Regions from separate parts of the Homo sapiens genome. Here region 1 is linked to region 2. A link means that fine-mapping ties the variant in region 2 to the expression of a gene that starts in the linked region. Tissue or cell type: whole blood. Region 2 holds a variant in brackets; the other region holds the start of a gene. All regions are shown on one strand. Distances are between the middles of the regions.

Region 1 (8,100 bases), 21 kb before region 2:
ACAGAATTCTAGGTGGACATCCTGTGAATCACAAAATCCAGCTCCTTGTTTTACAGAAGAGAGGAGTAAGGCTCATACAGGGAAGAAGACTTGTCCCGGGTCAGACAGGACTCACTGGCACCAGCAGGCGTACATCCCAGGTTTCCAGACTCCTAATCAAGTGCTCTCTTCGCTCTGTCCCTATCCAGTGGTGGCAGCCCATGTCTGAGCCCTCAGGGCTATAACAACCATGCAAAGCTCGGACGGGGCAGGGTCATGCCAGGTGTAGAGAAACCTCTCTGCAAGCTCACCAGAGTATAAGCTGCCCTCTCGGAGCTGTTCCCTGGCCCCCTTCTTTCCCCTTGCCATCTAGGAAAGGGTGGGTGGAGGGCCAGTGATGTGGCAGGGGAAGTGAAACACACTTAGACACTGAATGTTTGACCTTCCATGGCTGACTAGGGTTGAACTTTTCCAGAAGTTTGTTGGAGAGTGTTAGGGGGAGTAATTCTGGTCTATGATAGTCCCCAATCCAGGTCCCACACCAACTAGTGCTTCTGAAGCCACCCAGTCTTCATTTCTCACAGGTTTAGAACCAGAAGATATTGGCTAAAGCTGCAGCAAGAAGGACCCTGGTCAGACAGCAACAGGACTTTCTGAATGGTGGAGCATGTGCAGGTGTGTGTCTGGGGACTGGATCCTCAGGCAGGGCACAAGGCAGGGAGACTGTCCTTTGGCATGACATGGTGAGCCTGACAGGGCTGGGCACATGGCCACAGAGGCTTCAGAAAGCCCATAGTCTAAGAATGGTGCCAAATGAAGACCCAAGATGCTGAGGCTCTGAGGGCAGTATGGCTAGGGGTGGGGTAGGGGGGCTTCATAGGCCTCTCTGGCTGGTGGCAGGCCTGGCCTTCCTGCCTGGGCTTCCTCTGCCCCAGAGGCCCAGGCTGGGGGAGGAAACAGAGCCCTGGGCTGCTGCAGCTGTGTCCCCAGCCTCTGCCTGACCTCCTGCCTCTTGCCCCTCCCGCAGCCAGTGAGGACTCTGGCTAGCACTGTGCGGCAGGACTGACGGTGGGATGGGATGGAGAGAGCACCCTAGAGGAGCTGAATCTGCCCACTGGGGTACTAGCAGGAAGCCATCCTTGGCAGCCTTTGCTAGCCCAGAAAGCTGCAAAGGAGAGGGTTTGAGGTGGAAAGGAAAAAGTGGCTAACAATAAGGCTAAAATCCGGCATTCCTCTAGGATCCTCTGTCCGTACCTCTACTTCTCTGGCCGTGCCCCAGTCCACCCTCCTTCTACTTTATCACGCATCAGAATCACCTGAAGTGCTCACTGAGAAAAGCATATTCACTGGTTTCACCCTCACTCCAGACTCTGATTCAGTCCTGGAATCAGCAAGAAACATGCATTTTTTAAAAGTTCCCCAGGGAGTTCTGATCAGTTTGTGTGGGCACAACGCTAAGTCTGGTTCCTCTGCTTTCATTTTGCTGTACAGGGCCCTGCTGGGTGAGTGGGAGTGGGATGCAGAGGGAGGGGACACTCACTCCCACCCAGGATACTCCCCATCTACTACAGAAGGGACAGCCAAGGGTAAACACCAAAGCTGGGACGTGGTGACACTGTGGAGCGAGGCTGTCTGCATCTGCAGAACCCATCTATGGTCTAATCCTGGGAATGTGATGGAGTAAAATTGGGACTGTCCAATTTTTAACTGGACCCAGTGTGAGATCAAGTACAGGAGGATGCTGAGTCCCGACCAGTCCAAACTCAGAGCTGACTCTGTACGATTTACCCTGAAATCTGACTGTAGCACAGACAGACTCCTGGGGCCTGGCAGGATCCTTTCACTTCTAAGCAAAACTTTGTGAAAGATCTCCTGCTGACAGAAGCATCACTATTGTTGGCCAGAAATTACAGACGTTAAACTAATTTCAAACGTTAGCTAAACACTATGAAATACTTAATAATAACAGTTAACCTTCTCTGAGTACTAATTATGTGCTAAGTACTGAACTTGAATGGTTTATCTGATTTAATCATCACAACAGTCCAACGGGGGAAAGTGAGGCTCAGAGATGTTCAGTTTCTTGTCCATAGTCACTGAGCGTGTCTTAATAAACTTAAATTGCTGATAATAAATCATTCCTTGGTCATTGTTATTCCTCCAGTTGTTTGGGGTTAGATGAGTCCCTCAAAGGAAGAAAAAGACATGGGTCTCGGTGGACGTGTACAAATTGCCCACTACTGTTGTTATTAACGGGTGCCCTACTCAGATTTGTTTAAATGAAGACAGCGTTTTTGTTTGTTTTTAATTTTTTTTGAGACAGGGTCTTGCTCAGTCGCCCAGGCTGGAGTGCAGTGGTGCAATCATAGCTCACTGTAGCCTTGAACTCCTGGGCTCAAGTGATCCTCCCACCTCAGCCTCCCAAGTCCCAAGGGACTACAGGGGTGCAGCACCATGCCCAGTTTTATTTTTAGTAGAGATAGGGTCTCACTATGTTGACCCAGGCAACAAAGGTGGTGTTGCTGCCCAGAAATCATCTGTTTGCCATAGGCTTAGTCAAAGTCTGAGCCTCAGGTGGGGAGAGCCAGAGTAGTGGTATGCCCGAAAGGTGCTTATCAATGTTTTTCTCCCTAGCACACCTGAAGGATTGATAAAACCTACTCCCATCAACGGCAGTGGCTCAGCACAGCAGTGATCTTCACAGGGCTGGAGAAGCGCCATATCAAGCACAACCTTCTGGACTCACTCTGCACTTCAGTAGGCCTTACCCCAACAGCAGAGGAGCAGACCCAGCTGTTCATATTGGGTTGCCCTTACGATTCATCCATGTGATTTATTAGCCCTTCACAGCGGGGTGATGCAGTGGAACATCCAGGTGATGCCTGGATTTTCAGGTCTCAGGCAGACCATGGAGGCAGCACAGTGTAGCACAGAGGTTAGGGTGTGGGCTCTGGAGCATGGAGACCTGGGTTCAAATCCTGCCTTTGCCACTTAGAGGTATGAAATTTGAGACGTTACTTAAACTTTCTGAGGCTTAGGCTTCCCATCATATGTAAAGTGGGAATAATAATAGTGTTATCTCATAGGTAAAATGTAGTACAATTATTTAGCAGAGTATAAGTAGTACACAGTAAGCACTGAAATGTTATCAAGACCCCAACCATGCCATTCACCCCACCATCCAAGGAGTTTTGGACAAGTCCCATATTCATGTCTGTTTCCTTTTCTGTAGGAAGGGGATAGTAACCCCTCTTCCACTAGGTTGCGGCCAGGATTACATGAGAAAAAATATATATATCTAAGTGTCTACATAGTTAGTACTCAATCAATGGTAGCTATTTCTAACAAACCAATGAAATGGGGGGACAGGTGAGAGGACAGGTATTAGGACAGACCCTGACTCAGCCAGAAGCTGGCCATACATAGAGAGAGTGAGAGCAACTGTCCATTATGCCCCTGTCCTTGGAGAAGGAAAGAGGAGCTGGGGCAGCCAGCCCAGCCATGGGTTTCACAGCACTGGCCTCCATGGAAAAATCTGGGGTCCCAGCCTGGGGGGAGACTGGGATCCCCTTTGGCCTGGATCCTGAAGGAAGGTCGTGGCAAGGAGGTGACTGACCATGCGCGCCTAGGGTGAGACTCCTAGGTTGGAGTGATAGTGTCAGATTCCTCAAGCAACAGCTGGAAGGACTGATCTGGGAAAGGTGAGCTCTGCTGGGAGGCTCAACAGCTGTGGAAGTAGGCATTCACTCCAGGTCCACCCAGCGGCCTGGAGGACGTGTGATCCCTTCTATGTGAGTAGAGCAAGACAGGAATCCCACTGCCCATTTTATGAAGAGGGTAGGAGAACAGAGAAGTGAAGTCACTGACCCCAGGTCACCCGACTAGAACCAAGTTTCTGATTTCCAGTCCAGTCTCGTCCATTCCCCTCCAAGTCTCAGGTAGGGTCATGGGAGCTGTGCGTGGTCAGCCAGGAGCAGCTTGCCTTTCTAATGAGCTGGGACTGAGCCTCCCGCGACCACTCTGCGGTGACTCTGGGGTCCGCCCGAAGGAAGGGCCCACTGAAGCGGGGGTCAGGCCGCCCGCCACCCGGTCCCGTCCGCGGACCTCGACTCACCTCTGGGCCCGCTCTGCGGGTGGCGGGGCGCTAGCCTTCGGCGGACCGGGGCCACCTCCCCTCCACCGCGCGGCCGCAGTTGCACCGCCAGCGCTGGACGGCGGGCTGGGGTCCGGGCGCGGCCCCGGACCGGGCTGGAGCCGGGGAGGGGCTCGCTCGGCGCAGCTGGCGCGGCAGCCTCCCGGGACTGGGATGGGGGCTGGAGCAAAAATGTTTCTTATTCCAGCGTCTTCCTGCCTGGCCCAGCTCCACCACTCCCTCCTAATAAACCGTTTCCTTATTGCCCAGCTCGCCGACTGGCCGCCGCTCGCCCCTCGCTGGGGCTGCAGGACCGGGACCCACCCCCGCGCCGCTCCCAGCCCCTCAGGGCGGCCTCCCCTCCCAGCCGCCCGCAGCTCCCGGGTCGCTGGCCCGCACCCGGGCCGGGCCTCCCACATCCGCCTCCCCGAGGGGGCGGGCCTTGGACTCAGGCCGTGGGGGTCCTGTGGGGGTCCCATAGGGGTCCCGTGGGGTCCGGACCCACAGCCGTGGGAGACAGAGCCGAGACTGTAGGCAACGTCTGGCGGCCGGAGTAGTGGGTGGGGGTAGAGGGGGATCGGCTGGCAGCAGCGGAGGGGCCGCCTGGAATCGGGGCGCCGGGAAGGGGCCACCGAGGAAGGGACAGGCGGGGGTGGGACGGGGAGGGACACTACCTATCCTTACCCCACCCTCAGCCCGGGGGTCCTCGGTCTAGGAGGCTTGCAGCAATGAGGGCAGAGTTTGGGGCTAGCAAAATCCAGATGCGTTTTGACTCCGCCCTCGGGAACTCCCGACTTGGCCCAAATCCTTCAGTCCCCTCCCTCGGGCCCCTTCGTCCCCCATTTGTCCCCTCCTGTCTTCAGCAGCCTCTCCCGATCCGCACTCAGCACAGGGGTATACAGGCCCAGAGGACGGCCTTGGGTTAGCCCTGAGGATGGTTTGAGCCCTTCCTGGCCGTTGTGCAGCTGGGTGACAAAGACACCCCCGCCCCGCCAGGGACAGTCAGGATGGAGGGACACGCTGGGAGCAGCCTTGGACCTTCCCCTTCCAGGCAGGGCCCCCACCCCAGCAAATGGAGCTTTAGATAGAGGTGGGGAATGGAGCCTCCCTGGAACTCTGCTGACACAAGGCAGCTGGGGAGGGAAGCAGAATGGCTTCATACCGGCAGGGGAGGGGGACACAGACTCTTCCTGATGCTCCTGCACAGGCTGGGAGCACTGACCTCACTGCCCTGCTTTGCTCCAACCATCTAAGTACCTGCAGGACTCTGGTCTTAGTCCTAGCCTCCTGGTTATCCACAGAGACTCTGAAGTCAAACTACCTACTAGGAATGCAGGCTGGTTGTGTTACCGTAGGCTAGTGACACCTCTCCATGCTTCAGTCCCCCATCTGCTAAATAGGCATAGTAAACCGTGCCAGCCTCATAGGGTGGTTGTGAGAATAGACGGAAATGATGCTTATCTCAGCTCATAGCAAAGATGCTGGCTGGCTGAGCCTGACTCAGAGGAGGCCCTCAATGAAGGCGTTCGTTAATTAAATGAATAAATGAAAAGGCTGGGGAGGGGGTGGCCTCAGAGACACTTGGAAAGACGTGGGTATTAGAAGCAGGAGTAGACCTCTAAGGTGTCTTACTCTAATATGGGGATTCTACAAGATGAGCCAGGGACCCCTCCTCCTGCCCCGCCCCACCTTTTGACAGGAATAGAGGCTGGGGGAGATAATGGCTAAAAGCTCAGACAGGCATCAATTATTGACTGACCTCACTTCCTCTGCTGAAACCCTCCCCATCCCCCACCCCACAGCTGCTTCACAAGTTGTGAGCGTTGTGAATTCCCAGAACCCTGACACACCCAAATTTCAGTGTCAGGACAGAACTGTGTCCTGCAGCCAATAGGAAGTACTATGGGATTACGATATCTGCTCTTTCAGATTATAGCGGCCACTTGGGCCCTCTACGAGCTGGAGAACTGGGAGCCTGGCCGCGGGTCTGTCTTTCACACTCTCTCTCCCTGCTCCGCTATGGCTTCTGGTCAACCTTTTCCTCCCCCAACCCCTGGATCTCTGTCCTGAGAAGCGAGAGTCGGGGCTTCCCAAAGGAAGCCTTTAGTCTGAGAGGCACACTGAGCACAGAAACTTCGAGATGGACAAAAGCTGAGAGTCACTTCTAACAGTCAGTGGGGGATGGAAGACTATCTGGACCAGCGTTCGTGAAACAGATAAAAATAGAGTACATTTTGGGAGCTGGAAGAGAGGACCCAGGGGGGGCTGGAGTCTGTTCATCAGTGCTGGAATCTTCCCCATCTCCCCAGAGCACTGAGCCCTCTGGCCCCTGACTGGTGCTCTTTGGGGCTCTTGTGAACCCCATGCCTTCCAAAGCACACAGAGAACCTGGGGGAGGTGTCAGAGTTGGAGATCCAGAGTTGGAGAAAGCCCTGGAGAGTCATCCCAATGAGAAAAGGGAAAAGGAATTACAGACTGTGTCCAAGTCTACAAGAATTAATTACTCAGAGGGACCAGCTGTTCCCCATATTCAGTGAGGACAGAACAAGAGGAAACAGGCCCAAAGGACAAAGATTTAGATTTAGATACTCAGAAGGATTTCCCAACACTGCAGGAAGCAGAGGCCTGGAGATTCTGTGTGGGGTGAAACCTCAAGCAGATTCTCATCTGTGGAAGGTGGGTGACATGGAGTCTGTCAGGAAGGCAGGGCAATGGACACCTTCACCTTTCAGGACCAGCTATGAGTATTAAGTTCAAGCATCATTCTTTTTTTTTTGAGATGGAGTCTCACAGTGTCGCCCAGGCTGGAGTGCAGTTGCGTGATCTCAGGTCTGCCTCCCAGGTTCAAGTGATTCTCCTGTCTCAGTCTCCCAAGTAGCTGGGATTACAGATGCGTGCCTCCACGCCTGGCTAATGTTTGTATTTTTAGTAGAGACGGGGTTTCACCATGTTGTACAGGCTGGTCTCGAACTCCTGACCTCAGCTGATCCACCCACTCAGCCTCCCAAAGTGCTGAGATTACAGGCATAAGCCACCCCACCCAGACTCAAACATCACTCTTGATACTAGTGCGGGGCTGGCTTCATGGGAGTGTGACCTGTGCAGATGCACAGGGCCCCATGCTTGGTTTAATGCGCTGTCATTGCCATCTTAAAATTCTTAATGATATATTTTTTTTCCATTTATTTAGGTCTCTTTTATTTATCAGTGTTCTTGTAGTTTTCAGCATTTAACTCCTTTATGTGTTTTGTTACACTTATACTTTTTAAAAGCAATTATAAACAGGATATGCTATTTTTAATTTTTGTGTCCATTTGTTCATTAAATTATATAGAAATATAATCGATTTTTACATATTGATCTTGTATACTGTGACCTTGCTGAACTCACTTATTCAAGGGGGTGAGGTATTTGGGTTTTCTACCCCTCATGGATTCTTTGGGATTTTCTACATCGACAGTCATCTGCATCTGCAAATAGAGACAGTATTATTTCTTACCTTCCAATATGCATATCTTTTATTTCCTTTTCTTACCTGACTGCACTAGCTAAAACTTCTAGCATTATGTTGAATAAGAGTGGTCAAAACAGAACAGCCATCCTTGCCTTGTTTCTCTTAGGAGAACACACTCAATCTATTAATCATAATGTTAGCCGTAAGTTTCTTGTAGTAGCCACTCTATATCAGATTGAGAAAGTTCCCCCATTCCTCTTTTGTGTGTGTGTGTGTATTCTTATCATGGATGGCTATTGAATTTTGTCAAATGCCTTTTCTGCATCCACTGATACGAATTGTGTAATTTCTCTTTGTTAGTCTGTTAATACGGTAGATTATGTTGACTGATTTTCTCTTCTTTCTTTTTCTTTTTTTTTTTTTTTGAAACAGAGTTTTGCTCTTGTTGCCCAGGCTGGAGTACAATGGCGTGATCTCGGCTCACTGCAATATCTGCCTCCTGGGTTCAAGCGATTCTCCTGCCTCAGCCTCCCTA
Region 2 (8,099 bases):
GAAGGTGGATGGTCAGGGCACAGAGTGTGGCAGGCAGTGGTGACGAAGGGACTGGCCAGGCTGGTTGTGGCAGTCACAAGGTGGTCCAGAACACCCCCCTCCTGAGGAGACGGGGCAAAGGGGAGGCTCAAGGTAGCCTGCAGCCGTTCTAGGAGTGAAGGGGCAACCTGGGCCTGGGCCTGGGCCTGGGCCACGAGCCCGGACAAGGCCGGCCACTCGGGCTTGTAGTGCTGGCTAAGCTGCTCCACTTGGGGCCGCCTCAGCAGCTGCCGAATCCTCCACACGGTGTCGAAGCTGTCGGTCAGCACTGCCCATTCCAGGGCCGTCTTGCCCCGAACAGGGTCCACTGCTGTCAGGTCAGCACCTGGGAAGGAGCACAGGGGGTGACATGGGGCGGGATAGGGGTTGGTGATTTGTGGAAGGGCAGATTCTTTAGGAGCAAGACTGATGTGGGTTACATTCGAAGCCATAGAGTCCCATCCTGTTGAAGGTGGAATCAGGGAGGCCAGTGTTGCAACCTCCTGTTTAAGAGAGATTAAGACACTTAGGTCCAGAGAGGGGAAAAGACTTCAGAGAGACCTATTGTGGGGCTCCACCTAGGGCAGAATAGGGATCTCCTCAATCCAAGGAGCTGAGCAGAGCAGCGGTGCAGGCTGCCCAGGACAGGCAGAGGCCTGAGCTGCACCCTCTGGGGCAGGTGGGTGGGGATGATCGGCTGGTTCCCTCTCCTGGTTCTTCTCTTCTCACCATCTCCCTCTCCCATCTTGGGGTTGTGGGAGGAGCAGTCACTCTAAGACAAAAGAAAGGGTGTAGAGCGCCCTCCTTTTTCATTCACTCCTTTTTCACTCCAAACCCAGTGGGGTGTGTGGGGAAGGGAAAAATGGAGGCAGGGGTCCCCCAGAGTGACCAGCAGAGGGCAGCCCCACTGCGGGGAAGAAGGGCCCCCAAACAACTCCATGGACAATGTGGACTTCACCGCACCTCCCCCTGAACGACCCCACAGAGCCACAGGCCTCAACGACACTTCCCTGGATCCCCTGGAAGCCTGGCTTGTCAGAGTTGGAGGTAGTCCCAGGGAAAGCTAACACCCTCACAATACTGGTGAGGCCCAAAGAGGGAAGCCACTCAGCTAGGAACAGGGGCTGGTTCCAGATGCCAGCCTTTTTTCGTGTTAGATTTTCCAGCTGGGCTAGGTTCCCCTCCCACACTTTCCTTCCTGGGACCTCCACACACAATGTCTGAGCTATCAATAGCAGGACTTGGTTGATTGTACGAAGCCCAAATCATGTGCCCCCCCCTCCAGGAAGGTGAACTAGATTGATCCCCCATCTCCACCTCTCTCCTTTCTGCAAATAATCACAGCTGACTTAGTGTCTGGTGGGAAGGCTTGGAGGAGGGACTGGAGGCCACACACCCCGGTCCAGGCCCCGCACACCTGCCATGAGGAGGGTGGCCACGCACTCACAGCGGTTCCGCATGGCAGCCTTCATTAACGCCGTGAGCCCCCGCTGGTCCCGGCGTTCCAGGTCCAGGCCCACATAGTAGTTGAGCAGGAGACTCACTAGAGGCACGTGGCCTGCAGGGCAGCAAGGGTAAGCTTGGTCCCCAGGAAAGGGGGTGATGAAGCTCCCAAACCGCCCTCCACCCAGCATGACAGAGTCTGGTGTAGAACACCGTGCAACAAGGGTGGGGCTGAGGCCCTGTCTGCATCAAAAGGGGGCTGTCGGAAGTGGGGTGCAGCAGCCTCACACCTGCTTGGGCAGCCAACATGAGGGCCGTGTCCCCTCCTTTGTCCTGCTGGTTCACATCAAGGAAAGGACAGTGGCTGAGCAGGGCCACAACACTCTGGAAGCCGTGGTAGCATGCGACCATGAGGCCTGTCTGAGGGAGGGGCAGCTCAGATCCCCTGCTTTCCCCCTGGGCCACTCCAGGGCCCCTTGCACCCTCTAAACCCATATCTGTCCCAGAGCCTGCCCCAAACCCCGTGAAGACCCGCCCTTAACCATTCCCTTCCTCCTTAGGACTGCAGGAGGTATTGCCCCTGAACCCCTCTCAGGGAGCCAGGCCAGGACGGTGTGGTGGGGATGCAAAGATGCCCCCAGCTGTTCTGGGAAGCCAGGACATCTCACCCTCCCATTGCTGTCCACCTGGGTGGCCTCCTCTGGGGAGACCCCACCATCCAGTATGGCTTGGAGCTGGGTGGGATCATTGTGGACACAGGCCCAATACAGGGCCCCCAGCCTGCAGCCTGGGGTGGGGGTCTCCTTGCCCGGGCAGGGCAGTGCCTCAGACATGTCCAGCCGTCTCCTGTGCAATGCCAGCTCTTCCTCTTCCAGGCAGGGAACCAGAAGGTGAGTCCCTTTTCTCATGCAGCTGGCATCTAAAACACAGAATGGAGAGGAGTAGTGAGTGTCTCCCTGGATCCTAGGGAGGGGACCCAGCAGCTGCGAAGTGCACAGCCCTTGCCCCAGGGAAAACATTTATCCCAGCAGGGGTCTCGCCCCATCCACCCTGAGAAAGGACAAGCGCTGGGTCAGGAGCCCTAAGCAAGCAGGGTTCACTCTAGGTCAGCACCCCAGTGAGACTCACGGAGAGAGGGTCGTCGTTTTTTCTTACTTGGGGTTCGTAGGGTATCTATGAGGCAGTCAACGCGGGGCACAGCCCAGGCTCCGCGGAGCACAATCACTGGGTCTCCGAATGCCTCCAGGTGGACTATCCCTCCCCAGGAAGCAACGCAGGTAACAGATGGCTGGACTTTCATAAAGAGCTGCTGCAAACACCTCGGGGCTGAGCCGGATCAAGCAGCTGGGACTGGGGCCCCATGCGGGGCGGGTGGTCACGTCTCAGGAGCGGACTCAGACCAGCCCCAAGATCCTCCGGGTGGGCGGGGCCTGAGCCGGGCAGCTCCTCCCCGCCGGGGCGGGCTCACAAAGACGACTCCTCCTGACGGACGCGCCCACTCTCAGCCTTGGGGACGCCGGCGGAGATGCTGCCTCGTGGGGTCTTGGCCCAACTTTTTAGGCCCAGCCTAAAGCCCCTCCTAATTGGGTGGAGCGCGACTTGCTGAAGGGGTGGTTGCGGGAGAGGGGGTGAGTGAATGCAGGTATCTCATTAAATAGGGTTGGTACTCTCAGAATGACCCTGGGGTGGGGTCTCCAGGGGGGTCACCTGAACTTATTTTTTGAGGTTCTGGGGAAATAAAAACATAATTGTCAAATTATGAGTATAGAGCTGGGCCCGGTGGCTCACGTCTGTTATCCCAGCGACTCAGGAGGCTGAGGTGGGAGGATCGCTTGAGCCCGGGAGGTCGAGGCTGCAATGAACCGATGTCGCGCCACTGAACTCTAGCCTGGGCAACAGAGGGAGACCTCCTTTTAAAAAAAAATTGTGGCCAGGCGGGGTGGCTCACGCCTGTAATCCCAGCACTTTGAGATTCCAAGACGGGTGGATTATCTGAGGTCAGGAGTTCAAGAACAGCCTGGCTAACATGGCAAAACCCTGTCTCTACTAAAAATACAAAAATTAGCTGGGCTTGGTGGTGGGCGCCTGTAATCCCAGCTACTCAGGAGGCTGAGGCAGGAGAATCACTTGAACCCGGGAGGCAGAGGTTGCAGTAAGCCGGGATCGCACCATTGCTCTCCAGCCTAGGCAACAAGAGCGAAACTCCTTCTCAAAAAACAAAACAAACAAACAAACGAAATTGTGAGTACCGACATTATGTGTCTAGTGCAGGTGGGCAGTCGGGGCACAAAGTGCGGCAGGCAGTAGTGAGGGAGGGATTGGCCAGAAATTATGATGTATGAAATTTAATAGATTAGTTTCAGTGTGATAAATTAAATATGAAATATTTAAATTAAATGATCTGTTAATATAATGATAAATTGTTATCAAAATATTCTTTAATATTTATATTACATATTAAGCTTGATGGATTGGTCTTGGTCCACAGATGTAGAAAATGGAGCCAATGATATTCCCCCATTGGTATCACTCCCATCATCAGACTGTACAAGACCTCTCTCTTGTTTTGTTTTACTTTCTTTAGTTTCTCTCTTTCACCCTTAATCCCCACATCCCATTCTCCTCCACCCTTTACCAACTGGCACTTGTATATCCTTGAAAATGTACATTTCATTGAAAAAGATAGTACTGATTTGTGTGTTTTTATTTTATTTTTTTCTTTTTAGAAACAGGGTCTTACTCTGTCACCTGGGCTGGAGTGGAGTGGCATGATCATAGCTTACTGCAGCCTCAAACTCCTGGGCTTAAGTGATTCTCCCACCTCAGCCTCCCGAGAAGCTACGAGCTTCTCGGAGGCACACAGGTGTGTGCCACCGCGCCTGTCTAACTTTTTTATGTAGAGATGGGGATCTCACTTTGTTGCCCAGGCTGGTCTCAAACTCCTGGCATCAAGTGATCCTCCTGTCTTGGCATCCCACAGTGCTGGGATTGCAGGCATGAGCCTCCATGCTCTGCTTGTATGTGTTTTTAACTAACATGTTATGAATTGTGCTATAGAACTTATTCTGTTAGTTTTTTCTTTTTCACTTAAGCTCCATCCTTATTGCTTTAGGTGCAGTGTATCAGTTGGATGTGCATTTGGTTTTTAGTAACCAAAAAGCTGAATGGTATGTTGTCCATAATAGACGGGCTCCTCAACATTAATCTAAAACTGCTTTCAGTGTTTCTTCTGCGCTGCAGAAGTTGGAAAGCTAAAACAACCCTTCCCAGATTCCCTTGAGCTATGACTCTGTGGTTTGCGTCCTGCTCTTGTGCAAGATATAAATTTGGAACAGAGCTAC[G/A]TAGCATGGGACATCCGTTTTGCTGTCACAGGTCATGGCAGCAGCAGCAAGGCTCTGGTGAGCAGCTTCCTGATTCATCAGCTTCCTGTAGTAGTGACTGTTGTTTTCTCAATCACAGGCAGAGGTCATGTGACTCTCAAAGCTGGGGGTTGTTCCTGGACCTAAGCCTGCTTCTCCATCCCTTTCTGTTTAAACTGATCAGATTTCTTTCTTTCTTTCTTTCTTTCTTTCTTTTTTTTTTTTTTTTGAGACAGAGTTTCACTCTTGTTGCCCAGGCTGGAGTGCAATGGCGCGATCTCGGCTCACCACAACCTCCGCTTCACGGGTTCAAGTGATTCTCCTGCCTCAGCCTCCCCAGTAGCTGGGATTACAAGTATGTGCCACCACCCCGGCTAATTTTGTATTTTTAGTAGAGACGGGGTTTCTCCATGTTGGTCAGGCAGGTCTTGAACTCCTGACCTCAGTTGATCAGCCCACCTCGGCCCCCTAAAGTGCCGGGATTATAGGCGTGAGCCACTGCACCAGGTCCAGATTTATTTCTGTTGTCTGCAATTGAACTCTGACACATGTAGCTTAAACAAAGAGGTGCTTGTTTTTAATACATGATAAAAAGTTCAGGAATAGGAAACTGTTGATGTTGGTTAAGAAACTTGTCAGGGCCTTCTCTGGGATTCTCTTGACTTTTCCTCCTTGGCACAAGATGGCTGCTAAACCTCTAGCCATCACAGCAAAATGGGATAGATGCACCCTATGGAATTCTATACAGCAGTTAGAAAAAAATCTATCAGATGATAAACCAGACATCTCTGATTATCTAACACAATCCCTGTTCATAACTCCCCTTCTCTCTAGTTACCTTTCAGTTAGGTGTTATCATGTAATGCAGTTTTGGCCAATGAAATGCAAACAGAAGTCTGATGGATAGGGATTCTAGGAAAAAAGTTCATGCTGTTGTTGTAAATAAATTTTCAATGCTGCAAGGAAATAGCACTCGAACATAAATTTAATTTTCTCAGCATGGCAATTTTTACTTCTATAGAAGGGTGCGAGTCGTGAATGGAACAATGGCAAGAGCACACCTGGACAGGAGAGGAGAAGGAGTTCTTATTCCTGACACACGGCCCTACTGCTGTGGCGTTCCCCTATTGGCTAGGGTTGGACCGCACAGCCTAAGCTAATTCCGATTGGCTATTTTAAAGAGAGCAGGGATATGAGTTAGAGTGGCGGGGTGGGTAGTTTGGCGGGAAGGACAGTTAGGAACAGGGAACTAAAGGTGACTTAGATCAGAGCAGGTGACCAGGGTGACTCAGGTCAAAGCAGGTGACTGGGATGACTCAGGTCAAAGCAGATAAACGGGATGAGTCAGGATGGAGCAGCTGACCAGAGAACAGATGTGAACTACTGATTAGGACTAGAGGGAAAGTTGTTTACTAAAACCAGGAGCAAGGGAACGGAAGAGAACCAGGAAGCTAAACTTTAAAATGGATAATCAAAGAATAAGAGAGCTGAACATACTGACATACTGATTCTTTGAAGAGAAACTTGGGGTTCACTATAATTAACACTGTCTTGATGAAAGATGTAGAGTGCACCACTTTTTTTCTTTCTTTCTTCCCTCTTTCTTCCCTCTTTCTTCCTGCTTATAGAATTCCATAGTGTGCATCCACCTCATTTAGCCTATCCCTTCTTCCTGCAATAGATGCTTAGGTTGCCTCCAACTTCCTGTCACTATAAATAATGCCAAAGTGAACACCCTCATACGTATCTAGTTGTGGACCCATCGGGGTCTCTGAGATCACTAGATCACAGGGCACATACACACTTACTGAGTGGATACTCAGGTTGCACTCTGTTTCACCATGTGTGCCTACCAGCAGTGCATAAGAGTCTCCCTACGTCTTAGACAACACATGTCATTATTCAGCCTTCTAATGTTTGTCAATCTGATAGAACTATAAAGCGATATTGCTATTTTACATTGAATTTTTCTGATTATCAACAAGGTGAGCATCTCTCCACATGCCCTGCTGGCCAATCTTGTTTTCCCTCCTGTGAATTGACTGTTCATGGCCTTTGCTCAGTATTCTATTGAATTTTCCTATCCTTTTCTTATTGATTTTTCAGGAATTCTTTTAATATTCTAGATAATAAAGCCATTGTCAGATGGGTTATAGATGAGGCAACTGTACTATATAAACCCTTCTGTTAGCTTTATCTATGGTGACCTTCATTGAAATAGCTCCTGAATTTTGATATGGTTAAATTCACCAGAATTTCTCCTTATACTTTGTGTTCAGGGTCTTGTTTACTAAGAATTTTCTACTCCAAGATCACAAAGATCTTCATTTCTTTTATTAATCTTGCAGTTTTATTTTTAATATTTAGTCTTTAATTCATCTGGAATTCACTTTTATAATATTGAAGAAATAATCTGTTATAGACTAAATTGTGTCTCCCTCAACCAACCCCAATTCATATATTGAAGCCCTGACACCAAAAATGACTGTGTTTGGAGACAGGGCCTTTAAGGAGGTAATTAAGGTTAAATGAAGTTATTAGGGCAGGATAGGGCCCTAATCCAATAGAACTGTTGTCCTTATAAGAAGAGGAAGAGACACCAGAACTCTCTCTCTCTGTGCCTGCACAAGAAAAGGACACGTGAGGACACAGTCAGAAGGTACCATCTACAAGCCAAGGAGAGAGGCCTCTCTGGAGACCAATCCTGCTGACACCTTGATTTTGGATTTCTAGCTTCCAGAACTGTGAGAAAATACATTTCTGTTGTGTAACCCATCCAGCCTGTGTATTTTGTTAAAGCAACCTGAACAGACTAATAAAGGATCCAACCTTATTTTTTTCTCCATTTAGCAAGATAACTCCATCTATTAAACAATTCTCTCTCCCTTGATTTGTGGTGTCGTTTTTATCACATGTAAACGTTGAGTTCTCTTTTATGTTTTATGCTATGTTTCAGTTATCTTATAGCATCTTATGAGGGCATTCCTGTGCCAATGCTACACTGATTTTATTACTCTAGCCTTGTAGTCTCTCTGACTACCTGATAGAGTAAGTTCTCCATATCTGATTTTCTTTTTTGAAGTTGATTTTTATTCTCTCATGTAAAATTGCATATAAGATTGTTGGGTTCTTTTAAAATTTTTGCTACAGTTTTGATAGGCATTTATTTGAATTTATAGAGTAATTTGGGGAAAATTGACTGCCTCATAATGTTAGATCTTCTCTCCTCCCTGAACATGGGATACGCTATGATCTGAGTGTTTGTTTCCCCCAGAATTC

Evidence for each region. PIP is the estimated chance that this variant, and not a neighbour inherited with it, causes the effect.
Region 1: it holds the start of ACVRL1, and the variant in region 2 is fine-mapped to the expression of ACVRL1 in whole blood (TOPMed, PIP above 0.99).

The regions. Positions count from the first base shown.
Region 1 is chr12:51,903,689-51,911,788 of GRCh38, reverse strand. It overlaps ACVRL1 (activin A receptor like type 1), which reads right to left and starts at 4,285. Exons shown (of 10, transcript NM_000020.3): 1 at 4,094-4,285. RefSeq lists an enhancer at 3,616-4,124.
Region 2 is chr12:51,882,849-51,890,947 of GRCh38, reverse strand. ANKRD33 (ankyrin repeat domain 33) reads right to left here and starts at 2,845. Exons shown (of 5, transcript NM_182608.4): 1 at 2,617-2,845; 2 at 2,130-2,380; 3 at 1,752-1,881; 4 at 1,466-1,576; 5 at 1-364. The coding sequence starts at 2,761. The variant G/A (reference allele first, on the strand shown) is at 4,803.